Regions from separate parts of the Homo sapiens genome. Here all the other regions are reported to be linked to region 2. The links are microRNA targets in miRTarBase. Many come from high-throughput screens and were not tested one by one. Region 2 holds a microRNA gene; each other region holds the end of a gene's coding sequence.
The links. Region 2 holds the annotated microRNA hsa-miR-106b-5p (UAAAGUGCUGACAGUGCAGAU, at 1,118-1,138, opposite strand). A microRNA usually pairs through its seed, bases 2 to 8, with sites in the 3' UTR of a target mRNA and lowers its output. Matches are read on the target gene's strand: a 7mer-m8 pairs with bases 2 to 8, a 7mer-A1 pairs with bases 2 to 7 and ends in A, and an 8mer does both.

Region 1 (4,000 bases), not on the chromosome of region 2:
AAACTATACAAATAACCTTCCTTTTTAACCTAAGACTCAAACATTTATATTTGATTTTATTCTATTTGATACCAATTGGTATGTCCAGCTGATGCATTTGCAGATACAAAAGAATATTGCTTTGTGTTTGCACAGTCCCTTCCTTTCAAGGAACTTAAAGAACTTGATGGAGAAAAGAACTTGACGGACATTCTCTCTGAAGTCTTAAGGAGGTCAAAAGTAATGAAGGAAAACAGAAGGGGAGTGCTCGTTAGAGCCCACCATGCCCCACAGTTCTGAGGATGCGGGTGCGAGGACTCTGAAGCAAAGCAAAGCAGAGGGATCTCTCAGACGCCAAGTCACACAGCTCTTTACACATTGAAAATCTGAGTTAATGTTAAGACAATGATTAGTCAATCCTGAAACCATTTAGTGCAATTGGGGATTCCTCATTTTAAGTCGCTGCTTTAGAATTCCGCTCCCCTGCTGTCTGCATTCCGGTGGAAGCGGCATGCTGCCTTTGGACAAACAGCCTCTGCAGGGGCAGACACAGTTGTCTGGACTCTTTTGGAAATGAACAAAGACACTAAACCTACAGAACATCGTTTTTAAAGGAGATAGTTAAAAAGTAATGCCCTAAAAGCCAGAAATATTTCAATCGGCTTGAAAAGTGACACACAACAGGAGCAGGAAACACCAGTTTTTAGTATTTTGCCATCTTAGGCACACTGCTACTTGGAAAGATTTTTTAAGTGAACTTTGCCTTATAAAAATATTGATAAATATATGTACTTAAGCGAGAATCCAAATCGTACCCAAACTTCATGAAAGTGAAAGTCTATTGCTATGACATCTAGAAGAAACACTGAGTTATCTAAAAGGCAATGTTCAGTGGTGGGCAGAAAGGAAGAGAAAACGGGGGGTTCCGAGTTAGCTCCATTCAAGAGGAAGACACGGTTGTGGCCTCAGCTGCCTCTCTACTCGTCATGTAAGGGGGTCTTAACATGTCAGAACATTGTGGGGTCCTGCAACTTGCTGACAGATCTCGATGGAGCTGCTTATGGGACTCCATGGGGGGAACTGTAAGGACTCAACGTATCACTGGTGGACATGCGCGATCTACTCTAGTCAGAAGCATGACACCAACCCAACCACCCAGGCACAGTGGCAGTTCAGAAAAGTATTGCTCTGAGAGATCTGAGATCTAAGGTGGCCCCTGGCTGCTCCGCGTGTGATGTCGCCAGAGAGGACTCTCACTGGACGAGGCCCAGTGGTCTGAGGCTCTGTACAAAGCATGACGCCACATGTGATCATTCTCACACGCACACACAGCCTAATCATCCAAAACCTCCCTTTGGGCTTTGTCGTAAAAAACCCTCCATTTACCAGGAGGGATGCTGAGGCTTACAGGGATCAGATGTCCTGGACAAGTCATCCGTTTGGTAAGCTGCAGATGTGGCAAACCACGGATTCTAGCCACGCTCTTTCTACTGTGTCATCACAACACCAAAGTCTGAAAAGACACTTGTAAAAAAGAAAAAGCTTAAGGACATTTAATAATGTAGAAGTGTTCCGATATAGATAAACATCTTTCCAGAATCTCAGGTAAAGAACATCTTGGCTGAACTGACAACGAATCTTTTTGAGACACAACGTTTCTGTTCCCAAAATGATTACATCGACAACAGGTGCAGGAGGGTAGAACAAAGAAAGAACCGCGGAGATTACATTACAAAGATATATGTTTAAATGAGATTTGTAAACTTAATTTGTTTGCAACTCCGGGTGCAAAGAAGAGAATAATTATTTTTCTCTATACTGTAGTTAATTGAACTTAAGTACAACTGTGGAAAGTATATTTAAAAGTTAGACAGATTTTACAATTTTAAGTTTGATCAAGTGTTTTCCAGTTTGACTAATCATAACTGGGTTAACACACATAGCAAGTTTCCTTAAGGGCAAATGGAAAATGCTGGCATCTGAGCGGGGTGGTCAGAACGCACCCCACAGCCAGAGGCGCCTTCCCGGTAACACAGCACGCCTTCCTGTTAGTGTGTCGCCAGGACCAGGCTCTACCCGAATAAGAGATGGTCCCACGGTGCTTAAACAGGTGGTTACGCTGTTGTCTTTTTAAGTTTTTTGGCAGTAAAAAGGAAACTAAAATTAAAAGCTATATAACCCCATTTTTATAAATTCTAAACATTTTGATTTTTGGTTTACATTGCTTTCCTGCTTAGAAAATTTAGAGAACGAAATTGATTTAACTACATTTTCCAAGCCCCAAATTGAAATGCAGTTCTGAAATTGAAGTTCAATAATATTCCCCCAACTTTAGAAAACAGGAAGTCAGGTCATGCAACTTTCAACAGTGGATATATACAAAGTTCCACCTTTTCTTTCTGCTGGATCAATCTAAAGTCAGGAATTGACAACAATTTCCCTCTTACTCCTAGGTAATGATTTACCTGATATTAACCAAAATCGATTTTGAGAAAGTGTTCCCAATTATCTTGTGGTAAATCACAGTACTGCATCTATGAATATGCTCTAAGAAAAGCAAAATATTCATGGAAGCATAAAACAATATCACCTTTAAATAAAAATACTTTATTCATTCCTGATAGGTTATCAAAATGTACACTGTTAACCAAGTAAAAATGGTATGCTGAAATAGTTAACTAGGGCATATTTGAAGAATTTTGTTTACTTTTAAAAGAGGAAAAATCACTTCCAATCTTCCCTTCCACACATTCCTAACAAGCCTGCACTATACCTGCTTAAAACTGAAAATATAAACAATTACATGGGCCCCACTTCATTACAGAATGCATTTTCCTGTACTCTTAAAGGAAGCTATTACATTGAAGTTACCTTCCTTTGCCAAAAACTTTCAGACAAGTTTACTGCTCTTTATATTTTGTGTAACTTTGTAAATTATACAAGAAATATAGCACACAACTTGAATTAATCTAAAAACACATACACATAAACACAGGATAAAGTGCAACACAACAGAACATGTCTGCAACATTCACTTTCTCAAACCCCCACAGAAGGATTTTCGGAGTAAATGGAAATAATGTTGTTCTCAAGTGCATGAACACTAAATTCAACAGAATAGGTTATTTTTCCACACTGATATTTATATTGAAAATCCTATTTGCTTTGCTTCCCCTGTGGCTTCTGTCTCTCATTTTCAGTTAAAAGTTCCGAAGCTGTGATTCTTTTTAAACCTTAAGAAAATCCAACTCCACAGAGCTACACAAAGTGTTAGAAGGCAGCTTCCAATGATCTCTCGTCGGTAACAAGGAGAATTACAGTCATCTTAACAAAAGTGAGCCTTCCACTAACTTGGCAGCAAATGCTTTAAGGACCTTTGACACCAGCCACCAAACATTTCTATAGGCAAGTATCAACTATAAATGTCAGAAGTTTTTGGTTGCATGTTGTTTTGATGTTAAATTATTTAACTAAAAAATGCTTTTGTTCCTGAGATGAGCACAATAAAATTAAACGAGCTTCCTCTGAAGCTGCTGTCAGGACTCTGAGCTCCTGGTTCCACTCTCCTTATCTTCACACTGTCAGTTCCAAGCCATCAGTCATCCCCGTGGCGCCATTTCTGTGACTCGTCTTGCCGGACATCTGGCCTAATTTGGTTTCTCATGCCACCCAGCACGTTTGACGTTGCTTCTGTGGCAACAATCAGAGGTTTCACCACTGCCGGAGGAATCTGGCGCAGAACCTCGCCCACGGCACCAGTCACCCCTCTGCTCTCGTGTTCTCGAGCCGCAGTTTCATAAATGGTCTGAGCCGTGTCTGTGATTCCCTGCGTAGAGGAGGGAGGTAGGAGAGAGGAGGGCAGTGAACAAACTCTGGTCGGAAAACTCTCTAAGCTATCCTGCAGTACACACTTTTAAAGCAGGTAACATTATGTTTGTAACCAGACAAAAAAAAATGCCATGCTTTTAGATAAACCAGGATTATTATTTTTAATGACAGAATTCTAACTATAAGGGAAAGA
Region 2 (4,256 bases):
CTGGAATCAGACAAAAGTGATCCGTGTCCGGGAAGCATTGACCTGCCAGACATTGAGCTCCTCATATTCATCCAGAGCCGCCTGGAACTGGGCGGGTGTGAAGCCACGAGATACACAGCGCTGCTCTGCCTCAGAGAACCGGACACTTCGGCCCCCTGAGACCAGTTCACGGACGGTGGCAAATATCACATCTGCTGGTCTCTGAGTCCTGAAGGAAATGAGTGGGTGTGTAAGGTCAGGATACAAACAGGAATGCTCGACATCAACAGAGAACAATGGTGGCCAGTGTTAGAATTGAGGCCAACCTCAGACACATGGCCACAGAAGACAAAGTGACACAGCTTTGTCCTTCACTAAACCACTCACCTAGCTGTCTGCCCCTTGTCTCCTAGAAGAGAGTCCTTTGACATCTCCATTAGCCTGATGGCTTCATTCACATCTTCTTTCTCCACCACATCCACCATTCTCAGACGTGCCTAAGGGGAAGGTAGGGGGGAAAGATGGGAACGGGAGGAGGGCAGTGGAACGAGGTCAGGGGACACCCTTGTTCTGGCTTTAAGGCTGGGCAGCCCATGGGTCGCCTACTCACAAAACAGGAGTGGAATCCCCCCTCCCCCCAGCATCCGCAGTGTTGGGCCGGCACTGTCAGACCGAGACAAGTGCAATGCCCAGGGCAGCGTCCAGCAATTGCCCAAGTCTCCGCCTCTCAACACTGGCCAGTCCCGGAGTTCAGCTGTCCTGTGAGGGAGACCAGACCCTTTTGAACGCCACTGGGCTCCCCAGCATGACAGATGGAGCTTGGGGAGCTCAGCCAAGAAGACAATTGGCAGAGAGAACGTGTCCCGGGGGCTCGGGAAGTGCTAGCTCAGCAGTAGGTTGGGTAATCACACTACCTGCACGAACAGCACTTTGGAGCCCCCAGGACTGAGGTCCAAGACGGGAGGACAGAAAGGAAGGTCTGTAGCACAGGATCTAGGACACATGGAGTGAAACAGACCCCAACCACCCTCTCAGTGAAGGTTAAGAAGTGGGGAAAAGGCCTTTCCCTCCACGGACGCTGTGCGTGCCCTGCTGGAGCAGCAAGTACCCACAGTGCGGTAGCACGGAGAGGACCACTATCTGCACTGTCAGCACTTTAGCCCCGGCAGGGCTGGAGCGGGAGGTGGGGAGGCGGCAATGAGAGCACGGTAAGGAGCTACCCCTTTAAGGGTCAAAACAGATGGCCCTCCAGCAATTTGGGCACTTACCAGAGCAGTGGAAAGGCGCAGGATAGCCAGCAGGGTCCGGGCAGAAGTATAGGTGGCATCCTTACTAGCCCAAGCCTCTCGCCTCATCTCCACGTATGCTGCTGTGATGTAGTCAGCCAGAGACTCTGGCACCATGGGCTGCTTCTCGCGGCACATGGCTATGTAACGCCTGTGGGGGAAGGTTCATGGGGAAGCAGAAGAGGGAGATGGGGAAGGGAGTGAATATGAGCCCATGTTGTTTTCTGTACCAGGGCTCCCCATTTAACATGGTCCCCTCCAAGAATTTTAAGTGGAAAACACAAATTAGTGGGTGATTATTTGCTTGGCTTGAATATCACTGATGGATTTCACCAAACGTATAGCCCCCACCAGTATCCTCCAAGTTATTTCCTATTTTTTTCGGGAAAATGGCCTTTGTAAGACAAATCCGTCTGTCATTAAGAGAGGATCCAGACCCCTCCTCTGAGCGCATGACATGGCAAAACATATATTTTATTTAAAGAGAACTGTTTACAGAATATTTAAAAGGGAGTAAAAACCGGAAAGAACACTGGAGGCTCATGGGAAAATAGCGATAGAGATTATCATCCAGAATGCCTGGGAGCAGGTGTTTTAAACTTTAAATTTTGGAGTATTTGCATATGCATGAGATAGCTTGGGGATGGGACTCCAGTCTAAACATGAAATTCACCTGTATTTCATATACAACTGATACACATAACCTGAAGGTAATTTTATTAAAAATATTTTTGTGGGCCAGGAGCAGTGGTTCATGCCTGTAATCCCAGCACTTTGGGAGGCAGAGGTGGGCATCCTGGCCAACATGGTGAAACTGCTCTCTACTAAAATACAAAAAATTAACCAGGCGTGGTGGCGTGCGCCTGTAATCCCAGCTACTCAGGAGGCTGAGGCAGGAGAATCGCTTGAATCTGGGAGGCAGAGGTTGCAGAGAGCTGAGATCACTACACTCCAGCCTGGGTGACAGAGCAAGACTTCGTCTCAAAAAAAATAAATAGTGTAGGAAACAAAATTTCCTGTGTCCCTATGATATGAAGTGTGGAATTTTCCACTTAAAAGCTGATCTGAGGCTCTGGACATGTCTGTAGCGGGAAGTGGTGGTGTGAAAAACACACACCCTAAGACTAATAAGCACTTTTTCAGGAGGCTCGCACGGCCCACGCCAACGTTTGCCCACCCGCACCCAGCTCTCCTACCTCATGAGCTTCATGTCCAGAGGTTCAAACTGGGAGGGGGGCTGCCGGCTGTGCTGGTGCACATAGGTGATGTGCTGGGCCAACCTGGACAGAGGGAAGGTTAGAAGGAACACCCTTTTTAGGGCTACGCACCCATGTCCTCTTAGGTGTCCCTCCTTTGGCTCTGCCACTTCCTCACAGTGTAGGAGGGACAAGCTTTCCCGGGAAATCCTCATCAGCATTTCAGCCCCAACCCACCATTTCCCTGAGAACCATGGACCAGCCCCTGCTGCAAAGGGGAGGCTCTGGGGTTTCCAGGAGCGTGGAATTTGTTTTCTGATTCACCTCTCCTCCTCCCTACACAGATCATTACAGGGGACCTCTCTTTGGGTGTTGAGCTTCATTCACCGTAGGTCATTGTCTCGGTCGGGCCGGTCCTGAATCAGCCAGAGGAGGTCAAACCGGGAGAGCAGTGCAGCAGGTAGCTGTATGTTCTGCTCCAGGCTGCGGCGAGGGTTGTAGCGCCCGTAGGCAGGGTTGGCGGCAGCCAGGATGGAGCAGCGGGCATTGAGTGTGGTGAGAATGCCGGCCTTGGCAATGGAGATGGTCTGCTGCTCCATGACCTCGTGGATGGCTGTGCGGTCGGCCTCAGCCATCTTGTCGAACTCATCAATGCAGCACACACCCTGGTCAGCCAGCACCAGGGCCCCACCCTCTAAGGTCAGTTCTCCACTCACGGAGTCTCTCAGCACAGCTGCCGTAAGCCCCACTCCTGAGGAGCCCCGGCCTGTTGTGTACTGGCCTGGAAGAGAAGAAATAAGGAACCATGAGAGAGAAAGAACAAGAAAGAGAACAAGCAAAAGACAACAAACGGGCCAGGGAGGCGAGGCCTGCGCTGGGATCATTCCACTCCCTCCACCAGGCCTTCTTGAGATGCCCGAGGATCTGTGGGGCACTGGCAATGTCCCCCTTCCCCTCCCACTGGTTCTCTTCAGAACACAACTGTGGCTCACTGAAACCTTGGCTCCTGGGCTCAAGCCATCCTCCGGCCTCAGCCTCCCAAGTAACTGAGACTATAGGCACTCACTACCACACCCAACCAATTTTTAAAACTTTTTAGTAGAGGCCGGGCGCAGTGGCTAACTCCTCTAATCCCAGCACTTTCGGAGGCCGATAACAAGGCGGGCAGATCACGAGGTCAGGAGTTCGAGACCAGCCTGCCCAACACAGTAAACCCTGTCTCTACTAAAAATACAAAAAGTGGCCAAGTGTGGTGGCACGCGCCTGTAGTCCCAGCTACTCGGGAGGCCGAAGCAGGAGAATTGCTTGAACCTGGGAGGCAGAGGTTGCAGTGAGCCAAGACCATGCCATTGCACTCCAGTCTGGGTGACTGAGACTCCGTCTCAAAAAAAACAAAAAACAAAACAATACCCAAACAACAAAAAAAACTTTTTAGGCCGGGTGCGGTGGCTCACGCCTGTAATCCCAGCACTTTGGGAGGCCGAGGCGGGCGGATCACGAGGTCAGGATATCGAGACCATCTGGCTAACACGGTGAAACCCCGTCTCTATTAAAAATACAAAGAATTAGCCAGGCGTGGTGGCGGGCGCCTGTAGTCCCAGCTACTCGGGAGGCTGAGGCAGGAGAATGGCGTGACCCCAGGAGGTGGAGCTTGCAGTGAACCGAGATAGCGCCACTGCACTCCGGCCTGGGCGAAAGAGCAAGCCTCTATCTCAAAAAAAACAAAAACAAAAACAAAACTTTTTAGTAGACATGGAAGCGGTCTCAAAATCCTCGCCTCAAATGATTCTCCTGC
Region 3 (4,000 bases), not on the chromosome of region 2:
GTGTGCTTGAATTAAGGATTTTGAGATGGGGAGATTATCCTCAATTATTCAAGTAGCCCAATGTAATCACAGAAGTTTTTATATTAAGAGGGAGGCAGGAGGAAGATCAAAGACGATGGAAGCAGAGATGCCACGAACCAAGAAAAGCAAGGGGCTCCCAGAACTGGAAAAGGCAAAGAAAAGGAGTCTTCAGAAGTAACACAGGCCTGCTGACCCCTTGATTTGGCTGTGAAACCTATTTTAGATTTCTGACCTCCAGAAAAGTTAAAACAATAAATTCACTTAAGTTTATGGTCATTTGTTACAGCAGCAAAAGAAAACTAATACATTCACTTAACACTGAGTGCCTACATGTCAGCAAATGGGCAGAAATTAAAAGGCCTGGCCTTAAAGTTTACTACCTAACAGAAGGGAGGCACATGAGAGGAATGTTTTGGCTCTTTGACACCACATTTCTAAGGAAAACCACTGGGAGCAGAAAGCTGTCAATCTTCCCATGGAGGTGGGCCCACAAAGACACCAGACACCCCTAAGAAGCTCTATCACATCCTATACATCCCCAGGGCACTCATTTCACTGTATCTGTTGCCTGTCTTCCCATCAGACTGATACCTGAAAGCAGAGGCTATTTTCCGTAATTCACTGTTGTGTGCCCACATTAAGTGCTGAAGCTATACTGCACAGCAGCATTGAGCACTTTCGAGCTAGGCGCTGCTCTAAGCATTTTACAGGACCTGTTAACATTTAATCTTCATTAAAATCCTATGAAATTAGGCAAAATTATCTCCATTTTGCTGACATGGAAACCGAGACAGAGATTATTTATTGGCCCACGCTAACAAATAAGTGGAGACTAGATATGAACCCAAGCACTCTGGCTCCGAAGCCAACACTCCTAATCCAGCGAACCACAAATGAACCTTCAAAGAAGTTACTAACTAGGTTAACACTGGTTAAAGGCCAGTGAGTCCAAGACAACTTTATAAAAACTGAGATAGCTAAGGGACCATCCACTAGAGAAAGCCGGACCTTAGAAGGATGAACAGGAAATAAACATATATGAGGTGTAATCTTGTAGGAGAACCTACTGGGTGCCCAGACCCCTAAGGTTGGTTAGGCCTTCCAGAGGAGGATCCCTTGAAAGCAATGACATTTATAAGAAGTGAGTTTCCTAATCAGGTGTTAATCTGCATTTGAATAGGTTCCACCAGCTCACAAACATTTTCGTACCTATTATTGTTCCTCACAATCCTCTTATAAAACCAGATTGGTTATCCCACTTTACTCTGTTCTCTATGGGAATCCTGGTTCTCTGCAACCCCTCCCACATTTCCCCATCCTCCCTGGCCCCAGGCCACACTTACAATATGTGTCTGCATGGGCTATATATTTATATATTTTTTTTTAAAAAAAGCTTTGCTAAGTATCTCTCTGTATATAAAGTGCTTATTCCTATCCCAATGAAGACTTCCCACATTTCATGCACCCACCCACCTGCACCTAGATTAAGCAAGCAATACACCATCTGTACAACTTCATTCCATAATTAGTCTTAATTCTGACCCTGCAGAGGCCACTGATGGCCCTCACTATTCCTCTAAAACCTGGAAGCCAAACAGGCTCTGACATCTTCTGAGGCACAACTACCCTTCATGACACTGGATGTGCTAACACTGGGAACTGTACTCTCTATCTACCAAAGCAGTAAGACAAAACTGAATTTATAACTTAAAAACCCTCTGGAGGCAGTGGGTCATGCCTGTAATCCCAACTATTCAGGGGACTGAGGCAGTAGGATTGCTTGAGGCCAGGAGTTCAGTAACATGCTGGGGAATACAGGCTGGTGTGGATCTCATCTCTACAAAGGAAAATTAAAAAATAAACTCTTTGGCTCTACCTAGATATCCATGTACTATTTCAAAATATTGACCCAACTGCTAAGACAAAAAACATCTAGCAAAACACTGATACAATCATAAATATGTAAAATGATTTTTATAAACGATCATCTTGATTTCTCTCCAAAATTCACTGACCCTAAACAAACTTACTAAGCCAGAGAAATAGGTCCCAAAACCAGGAACAAAGAACTCAAAGAAATTCTATTTGTCTAGCAACTTTCGAATATTAAAAAGCAATAAATGACTGTGGAGCAGTAGTACCAAAATAATTACTAAGGGAGCTGTTTCAGTGTGTCAGAACTTTGACAACTAAATGAGGACCACAAACATTTTTACTCTCATTCTATGTACTTCATGTTACACTCTACATTGTTCACTAGTCTAGGTGAAACAATACATGAAGTATAAAGGAATGTTATTTACAAAAAAACCTTTGAAGTTTTTGCCCATTAATTTCATCAGATGCTCTGAAATAATTTGCATCCCTGGGCACAAATTTCATGCCTTCCTTCATAATACCCACAGTATGTAACAATTATTAGTAACTCACGTAAGTATGGCAAAAGATGCAAAACAAGAACACAAAAATGGAATGCAAAAGGAAAACAACACATTTACATGGCAGTTTATAAACAAGCGAAGGCCCGAGAAATAAATTTTAGCAACTAAATTCAATTTTTTCCATAAACCAAAGTTGGATTACCTTACCGACAAATCATGTACAAATGCTTGTGAAACAGGCTTTCTTAGAATAAACCCATTTCGAATCACTCAGCACAGTTAAAAAACAAAAAATTAAAATCTTTTGTATAGAAAAGCCTTTTAAAAACCCAAGAGATGTCTTTCACACAGACTCGACCCTGATTTTGCACGAAATGGGCTGTTGATTTGGCTTAATTTTATCACACACCACACTTGCCACAGTAGTTAAGGGAAGACAGAGGCAGGCTAACAACAACAACAACAAATCACAAATACAACAATATATTTCAATTTGAGAGCAGGTACTGTTTATTAACCAACCAGCTTAGAAAAATAATCATGGTAGACACCTGAAAGGAAAAAAGAAAACCATTAGAAAACACTTTAGGCAGCTAACAATTAACATAAACTAGGCAGTTATAAAGTAATGATTGAGTTTACATTTTTAAGACCACCCAATTTCCATCTTTAAAGACTCCCCAAAACAGGCTTTTCCTTTCCTCCAGAAAGGTCCTCAAAAGCAGTAAACAAACCAACTGTAATCATTAAGATAGTTGACCCCCACTCCCCACAAAAGCACTGATTAAAATTCAAACCCCCATCAATATTTAATGGGAAAAGTATTCAAGATTACCACCACTTATACTCTAACATTAACTCAACCTTTCTCAGGATGAGGTCTCTCACCTTAGTTCATTCTTCTAATAAGCCTGTTGATCTGGTCCTCCCTGTTGCCAGCATCTCCACCTTCTACAAAATGGGTGGTCTTTTTCTTCATTCCACCTCGTGGAGAAGACAATTTGAAGGGCCACAGGAAGTTATTTGCCTCTTTGAAGCGTTTTCCAACAGTATAGATCTCATGAATCAAATCCTCCATGCAGATGATGCCGTATTTACCTAAATATTTTAAGGTTATTTAAGATTATTAAAGTTGCAAAAAGTTTTGAAATAATTATTCAAAATCTTTTTGAATAGGCTGTGAGATGAAAACATAACCAGGAATAAACAAGGTAAATGCATGGCTTTACAAAGATAAGGTTCAAGCTAATGAAACCATGTCTTACGTTTTCTTTTAAGCTAAATCAAGAATCATAGGGAACACATGAAGATTCACAATAGTGAGAAATGTACGGCCACAAGAGGGTAAGAAATTATCGCATGGTCTAATACCAAATTTTCCCCCAAATAGAACCTACCAAGAGATCGAGCAATCAAAGCGTTATCTGTCAAAGCAATTCGCTTCTTATTGATTTTGCCATAACCACGCTTGTAGATTAGTTCATTTACTGACTTCAGATTGGGGTACCTGAAGTGAAAAAGCAAACATAAATAAGGTGACCACTGTTAAAACATCTAAAATTCATGTTGCTACATAACCAATTTATCAAATAGAAATC
Region 4 (4,000 bases), not on the chromosome of region 2:
TGGGGCTTAATCAGGGCTGTGGCCATGGGTAGGTAGTATTTGGGGGTGAGGGTGAGTGGGGCTGTACTAAGGCGATGGGCTTCACCCCTCCTCTCTCTGCCCTACAGATCCACAATGCCCCAGAACTGGCCCTGTTCTGTGAGGGCTTCTTCCTCAAGCACATGAAGGCCCTACTGGAGCAGGATGCCTTCCGGCAGCTCATCTACGGCCGCAGCAGCAAAGTGCAGGGCCTGGATCCACTGCAGGACCTGCAGAACACCCTGGCAGAGCGCGTGCACTCTGTCTACATCACCTCCCGGGTGTGAGGCAGGGGGCGGAGGCTGCCGAGGCCAGGGCCTGTGGAGGTGCCAGGGCCCACCATGTCGGGGTATGGTTGTAGGCCCTCTTGGAGCCAGGTTCACGGGGCTGTTTCCTCCTCCTCCCCCAGATGTCCCCCCTGTCACCGGGCAGCTCACCCTCATCTCCTCTGCCCTAGAGCTGTTTGTTCAATCACTGATGGGCAAAGGGGAGATGTAGCTAACTGGTGGCCCTCCTCCCCATCTCAGTTTGCAACTCAAGGGCAGCCATGCACTCCCCCGGGGTGTCGCTCTCCCCTCCTGCAGGTCAGCAGCTGATCCTGATCCACCTCCGCCCAGGCCCTCCAAGCTCTACTCACCCCTAGGGCCTCAGTAAACTCAGACCATCCCAACTGGGGCTCCTGGGGGTACAGGAATCCTTATGAATGTATAGAATGCATACTGCCTAGGCCCCCAGTCGTCTGCAGTAATTCAAAAGCTGGTATTTTTCTTCCTAAATGTCACATAGCAAAGGCTGCCCAAATCCCCAAACTTGTTCTTCAAAGGTTTGACAGGCTTAATGTGGGCATCCAGTGGCCTGTGGACCCCCCCCTGCCACCACGACTGCTGCCACCCGGAGTTCCCCCATTGTCTTTGGTGCCTGGGCTTCCAGAGTCCCTCCCATCAGGACTACCAGCTTGCTCAGTTAGCAGCAGAGGGCAGTTCCCCAGCTTGATGGTTTCTGAGCTAAGTCTGGCATGGAGGGGCAAGGGGTAGGGGATGGGGTGCTGTGTAGGAATGGCCTCAGCTCTTGTTTTGCTGCTGGTTTTAGGGGCCAAAGTAAATGGGTGGATTCTGGAACCTCAGGCCTAGACTAGGTTGCCTTTGTGGGGGCGATGAAGCAGAGTCCCCTGGTCAAGTCTCTCGGCTCCTTTAATGTAGGATTGAGAGCTGGGCAAACAGGTCCCACTGGGGACTGTGACTCTTGGAGATTAAAGGACAGGGCATTGATGGAAGGTAAGGGCCAGGAGAAGAGGCCTTTCTGCTGTGTCCCCTCACGGCCTTGCCCTCGAATTCTGCAGGCCCTGGGCTCCCCTGACACCTGTCATATTTATGGACCAGACACTGGGGCAGCATCAGGCACAGTCTGTCTGGGTGCAACTTCTTCAGCTGTCTGGCCGCACCTTAAAAACTATTTATTCACCAAAAGCCCCAGGCATTTCAGAAGGTGGCACTCAGGTCACCCTGAAAAGCCCCCAGGGGCTTGCAATTCTGGAAAATATTTTGACTAGCTGCTTGGCTGGATGTACAAAGAAATAGGCATTATTTTATTGCTGTAATATTGTATGATACTTTAACTGTACAATAATGTTGTCACTTACTGTAAATGTACTATGGTTTTATTAACAATAAACACTCATTAACAATGACCTTGGCCTCACTGCTCCTGGTAGAGGGTTACTCAGAGTTCAGAACTGGGGAGGAGCCCCTTAGGACCAGGAAGAGATCCCAGAGCTAACGCTGTTACTCAGGTCTCCCCCCTCTCAGAGCCAAGACCCTACCAAAGCCATTGCTGTGGCCACCCAGCACTCGCCTCTCTCCAGAAACGAAGCCTGGATCCATTCCTCACCCGCCCACGCTCACATTTAATTAAGCACATGTGTGCCACTGAGCTGGACAGACACCAAATGACTGAGGAATATGACACTATCAGGCTTTCCTGATCTCCACTCCCATCCCCTCCACGGCCCTTTATGTGGGAGCTATTTTGGGGGTTGTCTTCAGAGGCACATCCCCAAATGGCACAGCCCACCAAAGTGGCAGCAGGGCCTCCTTCACCCAGGCCTGACCTGGCCTGATTGATTTGAGGGACCTATCCCTGGGTGACTGCTGCCCCCAGGCCCAGCTAAGCTAAGCTGGCTGTACCACCACAAGGCCACTAGCAGAGGTAATGGAGGGAGATGGTGAGGCGCCGACTCAGGTCCAAGAGTGTACTGGAGTTATGGCTGTAGTTTTAGGTGCAAAGTTCAGGCACAAATATAAGTTTTTAAAACATTCCCTGCCAGTTAGCTGGGCATAGTGGTGCACATCTGTATTCCCAGCTGCTCAGGAGGCTGAGGTGGGAGGATCACAGAGCCCAGGGGTTCGAGGCTGCAGTGAGCTATGATCACCCCTGCACCTCAGCCTGGACAACAAAGCAAGACTCTCTCTCAAAAAAAAAGTCGCCTGCCTGCCTGCCTGAAACAGGTATAGAAATTCCTAAGGTCACTGAGAACCTGAACCAAAGTGGCTGTGGGTCAGTGACCGGCCGTGACTCAGGCGTTAGGGGAACGACATAAAGATCCCAGTCCCTGGCAAAGCCCAATTCCAGCAGGAGCTGCGCAGGGCAGCTCGAGGCCCAGCCTGGGGACCTGTGGCCGCACAGACCCATGGTGCCCTCTGGGGGCCACTAGGAGGGGGCGCACTCCCCCACACCATCTTCCTGTGCAGTGGCCCAAGACGGTGGTGGAGCGGGCTGTCCGTCCCCAGCACTTGCCATTCAAAGTGGCTGCCCTTCATGGGTCTGTGTCCAGCGTCCCCACAAGTTCCCCCATCCCTGCAGGACATGCCTTGGTCCGTACCCAGCCTAGAAAGCAAGATCTAGTTGCATTCTGGCTCCAGATGAGGGATCCACCATTTCCTCTCTTGAGAGGGTGAGTGGGGGGTTGAGAGAAAGTGGAGGTAGGAAGGAGGGAGCGGGCCCCTTGGAGCCTGTGGGTAGCAGGAATACATTTTTGAATAAACATTTAAAATTAAAATAATTACCAAAAAAAAGCAGACATGCTTCCAAGGGGCTAGGACTCAAACAGAAATGATCACTTACCCAGGCAGCTGGACCTCCTAATTCCGGGCCACTGCTCACGGCCTGCCCTGCTCCGCCTGCTATGAGCAGCCACAGGCAGGCTTGGGGGAGTTACCCTCTTACTGGAGCCCTTGAGGACCCAGGTGCTGTGAGCATGGGTTGCATCTACAGGGATTTCACTCGGCTCCAGTGGGTCCACAGGCAAGCATAAGCTGGCGCCTTAGCCGTCTCCAAAGAAAACACCTCTCCAGAGGTGGCAGGTACCAGTCTGCTCCTGCACCGACAGGGCTAACACTGAGATTGTCCTTTTTGAGGCTGTCTGGTTTCTTTCCTGCATTCAAATCTTCTCCTGAAGCTTTCCTTTAGGCTCTCGGCCTGGAAGGCCAGTTATCCTTTTCCACATTAGTCCCCGTGCCAGATACCAGGTGGCTAGAGCTTTCTCAACGGAACCAGCCCAAGCAGGAAGCCCCGGCCTCTCCCTTTCAGGCTGCCTTTCAAGTCCGCTTTGCAGGATCCAGATGATGTTTAACTGGAACCAATTGTTTGTAGAATCAAGGGCATGCCCCCTCAGGGGCAATCCCCTGAAATTGTCTATTCCAGCCCAAGGGGCTTCCGACCCCACCCCCTCCTCCAGGCCTGCAGAATGGCTGCGGGTGTTGTAACAGGCCTCAGATAATGAGTCTACATTTTTCCAAGGTGACGGTCACTTATTTCTGCCCCTCCCCCACCTCCCAGCCTCAGCGGCCCCCTTTGTGTCCCGTCTCCTGGTCATCCGGAGTCCTCCGGGACTTCCGGGCCAGATGAGCAGTGGAAGCACTGAAGCAGGCCGGCATTAGCCCCGCCTGGCGAGGGGGTATGGGGGGTGACCATTTAGTAACCTTCT
Region 5 (4,000 bases), not on the chromosome of region 2:
AGCCTGGCCTCTGTGATCACAAGCTACACAGAGGGCATTGCCTAGGTGGGTGTGGCCACTGGGTTTTCCTGGATCAGGACTAACCCATTGTTAGGACCATGTATTCTTACAGATCTCTCTTGAGCAGCATTCTTTTGTATACCTGAGCAGCATTCTTTTGAGTCAGTGGTGAGGCAGCCAAGAATCCTTGGCCCCAAAGTGAAAATGACATGTGACTCTGCTAGGTAGGGACACCCTCCCTACCCAGCTTGTTCCTGGGCTAGAGAGATGAAAGGGTTTGATCTCAAGGAGCTCCAGCACATGCAAATTACACACGGCAAAGTTTGTCTTTTGAAGTTGGTTTCCCTCCGCATACCTGCTGGCCAAAACTAACATTGTTCTGTTTCTTCTCATCTCAAGGAATTGTGGGAACGTATTCTGCTCCAGTTGTTGTAACCAGAAGGTTCCAGTTCCCAGCCAGCAGCTCTTTGAACCCAGTCGAGTATGCAAGTCTTGCTATAGCAGCCTACATCCCACAAGCTCCAGCATTGACCTTGAACTGGATAAGCCCATTGCTGCCACTTCCAACTGAAGCTCAGTGACCTGGGTGGGCAGTGGCCAAGCTGCTGTTCCTATGACAGGCCCACTCAACCTGGGCAGACCGAGAGGCCCGTGCACTTTGGAATGGGAGCGTGGAACCACCTGTACAGAGTGACAGATTTGGGATGCACCACTGGATTGTAGATTGATTTTTCTTTCCTGTCCCCCTACTCCCTCCCTACCTTTTCCATCCTCCTCCTCTGCCTTCAAAAAAGGAAACTTTCCCTTGGTTGTCTTAATTTTTTTTTTTTTTGATGGAAGACCAAGGGTTGCCAGGCCCACTGTAACTGCCGAGCTGCCTGCTGTCACGTGACACTGAGGGATGGCTTGTTTCTTCCGGGTGGGAGGATGGTGGTCAGAGCCAGGAGTATGGAGATCTGAGACCGTGAGCAGGGAAGAAAGCCAGTGCTAACATGCAACCATTCCTCACGCCACCGCCACATCAGAGCTGGTTGGGAACCCTTTGCTGCTGGGGAGGCTGGAAGCATATTCCCCAAGAGCACTGCCCTGGGCATCATCTCCCTCCTGCGAGGAGCTGAGCCAGTCCCCTCACAGATGGATAAATGAGGCTGATGTTTGGAGGGAGAGGCACACGGTAAATGGCATCCCCTTAGGCGCCTCTTTGGGAAAGGAAAGTGGATGCTCCTTTGAGGCAGGCGAGGGGCTGGGAGTGGGTAGCCGTCATGTTGTCCCCCGTGGGATCCCATTTTTAACTTGACCCAGATTGTCTTGGGCTCCTTTTACTTTCAGGGGGCTGCTTTCCTGGGCCAGGCTGTGTAGCACTTCCCACCCTCAGGCATGAGTACAGACTGGTCAAAATGTTTATGCAGTCAAGGCCAAAGCCTGCCCTGAGCCCAGACACACCTGGGTCCCCATTCTGGGGCCTGGTCCCCTAAACAATCTCTTCCTCAGCCAGCACAGGGAAATCCAGACTCAGGGTTCCAGAAATCCCCCGTTCCCAAACCAAACCAATCATGGATCTTCCCTTTAAGGGGTAGAATCAGCCTTTAGAGTTACAAGCCCCTGGAAAAGGGAGCAGGTCCCATACAATCAGCCTTTCTCCTCTTCTCTTCTTGGGACAGGAATAACTGCTGAGCAGTCCCCCTTTGCCACTCCTGGCTGTCTGAGTGGGCACTTGTCTGGCTGCTGGCCAGCAGTGAAGGGCCACTTGGTGACTTCGTAGGGTTCCTTAGAGAAGTGACATGGCCTTGAGGAGATTCAGGGCACCTTTCCTCAGTGAGCTTTGATATGGTCCAAAAACAGCCTTAAATCAAGAATATTTGTGGAGGTAGGTGTGGGGAAGGTTGGAGAAGAGTTAGGTTTGTGCTTTGTAATCTTGGCATCCATGTTTTGTGCCTGCCCTCCCTCTTGGGGAGGCCATGCTTGACTCTGCTGAAAGCTGCTAACTGGTGACAGGGTGGATCATGGTGAGGACTAGGGGTAAGGTCAGGGAATGCTTAAGCTCTGGCCCTGCCCTGTATTCCTCTTCCCCTTGGTAGCAGTTCCCTGACCAAGGGCAAGGTGTGTCTCAGGAAGGTGGTTCTGTGCATGCCTGGGTGTGGTTAAGGCGTGGCCCAGAAGGCTTCCCTGGTGCTCTCAGTCCAGGCAAAGCCCAGAGCATCTGAGCACGTCTCTGACTTCCAGTGGCAACACAGTTTGAACGTGGTGAAACAGGGTGTAGTTCTTTTCCACATTCTGTGTCATCTAGTCGTGCAGGTAGGGAAAAAGTTGGTCTAATTGAAGATTGTGCATTTCCTAGTGACAGGTGCCAAGAGGTTATGATACGGGTTTCTTGGGTCTGATGTACAGTGTGAATAAATGCTTGCAGCTCTTAGCTCTTTTTTGATCGATGAAGCACTTTTTTATTAATATTTTCCTTTGTTAAAGGAGGAACCGTAACTCTCCATAGCTGTACATATAACCCTTTTCTCCTAAAGAGGAGTCAGTCAGTGCTCCTATATTTTTCATTTTTTGTCAAAGCAAGAAGTAAATACTTTAGAATTGTTAAATATATAAATAAAGCAAATAAAGTTGAGTGTTCCACATGGTAGCATTTGCTAACACTTCCTAATTCTTTGCCCTGTGGTTTATCCCCTCTTCGTCCCTTTTCCCTCTCACACAGAAGTGTTTGAGGGCCTGCTGGGAAACTGACCTTTGGCAAAGGAAAGCTACAGATAGCCTTCCGACTCTAGACCTTGGCAAGGAGCCTCACCATGATGTTCAAGCACTGAACGCATTTCCTCAGTGATTTTGCTCCTAAAATCTCCCAGGCTAAAAGAGGGCAAAGCAGTCAGGGATCTGACCTGGCAGCTATTCCTCCTTCTCTGAAGAGTTCCCATCAGTAGTCATTACAACTACCTCTCGCCTCAAGGCTCCATTTTTAGCTGCTGCTCTGATTTCAGGGCAGCCAGTACTCTGGCCCCTTCAGTCGGGGAGTGGAAGGAGATGTGGGGTGGGGGTGAGAAAATGCTTCTGCCTGTTGTTCTTGAAGGATAGACTATGGGTGGGCAGAGAGAACTGGGGGCAGAAATGGAATTAGATGTGATTGGGTTATGCAGTCAACTAGAGGTCTCCTTCCCGCCCTCTCTCCACACAGAGAGGAACCTCTGCTCCTTAGCTCTTACAGCAGGACTGTGGCATCTAGTCACTTCAATACTAGTTCTTGCTCTTCACAGAGGTAGATTTTTCTTTACCCTACAGCACTGTTGGGCATCCCTCCCATCACATGGGTCTGTGGGTGAGATATGTTATGCTGTTCCTCCCTCGGGAAGGTTGGTATTGAGGGGTGCCTTGCTCCAGAGGCGCCAGCCCAGCATCTGTGGTGAGTTGGCTAAGATCCAGAGTGACCTGCTCAGAGCTCCCCAGAGGCCTTCACTCTTTGGGGCAGTCTCTCTAGGGTCACTTTCTGAATGTACCTTCTACCTAAAGTATACAAACACAAAGAGCCAGCTGAGCTGGTTCTAGTGTGAAAGCCGTAAGTGCCACCCAGCAGGCGTTTGAAAACAAGAAATCATTCTTCTGTGGAAGGAGAATGTGCCATCTCAGCTACCCTCAGTCCGCCAGGCAGCCCAGTCTGTGTATTCATATGAAGTTGTGAAAACCATGAGTGTGTGCCATGGCCATCGTGTCTACACACAGCCACTATTGTTCCTGTGGGCTAGTCTCCAGCAAATTAAAACACTGGCATGGCCTAGGAAGGGCGTTGCGAGCTCCTAAATGGAAAGCTTCTCTGGGGGTAGGGAGATGAAGAGCCAAGATGCTGGTGAAGCAGGTGCAGTGAGGATCCAAGGCAAGGAATTGCCCTGAGGGAGGTGGCTGCATATGGAGAAAGGCAGTTCTCTGTGGGCAAGGCCAGCTTGCTTCAGGCTGTAGAGGGAATTTGGTCTGAAGCAACAGGGCATGAACTGTGACTTTGAGCTGC

Region 1: the mRNA of ATG2B is a reported target of hsa-miR-106b-5p. Seed matches in the 3' UTR shown: 8mer at 2,977-2,984.
Region 3: miRTarBase lists RPL7 as a target of hsa-miR-106b-5p. The part of its 3' UTR that is shown has no 7-base or 8-base seed match.
Region 4: the mRNA of ABTB2 is a reported target of hsa-miR-106b-5p. The part of its 3' UTR that is shown has no 7-base or 8-base seed match.
Region 5: the mRNA of MTMR3 is a reported target of hsa-miR-106b-5p. Seed matches in the 3' UTR shown: 7mer-m8 at 654-660 and 7mer-m8 at 2,434-2,440.

What each region holds. Positions count from the first base shown.
Region 1 is chr14:96,282,181-96,286,180 of GRCh38, forward strand. It overlaps ATG2B (autophagy related 2B), which reads right to left. Exons shown (of 42, transcript NM_018036.7): 42 at 1-3,805. The coding sequence ends at 3,575. Among named protein-coding and RNA genes, the nearest start is that of BDKRB1-AS1, 16 kb to the left of the region's middle. RefSeq lists an enhancer at 140-680.
Region 2 is chr7:100,092,926-100,097,181 of GRCh38, forward strand. It overlaps MIR106B (microRNA 106b), which reads right to left and starts at 1,149; the gene lies at 1,068-1,149. MCM7 (minichromosome maintenance complex component 7) reads right to left here. Exons shown (of 15, transcript NM_005916.5): 11 at 2,849-3,242; 12 at 2,462-2,545; 13 at 1,248-1,416; 14 at 367-476; 15 at 1-208. The coding sequence ends at 7. It overlaps MIR25 (microRNA 25), which reads right to left and starts at 718; the gene lies at 635-718. It overlaps MIR93 (microRNA 93), which reads right to left and starts at 922; the gene lies at 843-922. RefSeq lists an enhancer at 2,576-3,076.
Region 3 is chr8:73,287,753-73,291,752 of GRCh38, forward strand. It overlaps RPL7 (ribosomal protein L7), which reads right to left. Exons shown (of 7, transcript NM_000971.4): 5 at 3,800-3,909; 6 at 3,291-3,500; 7 at 2,490-2,953. The coding sequence ends at 3,292. Among named protein-coding and RNA genes, the nearest start is that of RPL7, 3.9 kb to the right of the region's middle.
Region 4 is chr11:34,148,692-34,152,691 of GRCh38, reverse strand. ABTB2 (ankyrin repeat and BTB domain containing 2) reads left to right here. Exons shown (of 17, transcript NM_145804.3): 17 at 108-1,705. The coding sequence ends at 305. Among named protein-coding and RNA genes, the nearest start is that of NAT10, 45 kb to the right of the region's middle. RefSeq lists an enhancer at 2,243-2,772.
Region 5 is chr22:30,025,231-30,029,230 of GRCh38, forward strand. MTMR3 (myotubularin related protein 3) reads left to right here. Exons shown (of 20, transcript NM_021090.4): 20 at 400-4,000. The coding sequence ends at 571. The region is part of intron 3 of HORMAD2-AS1 (HORMAD2 and MTMR3 antisense RNA 1); the gene reads right to left. Among named protein-coding and RNA genes, the nearest start is that of MIR6818, 20 kb to the left of the region's middle.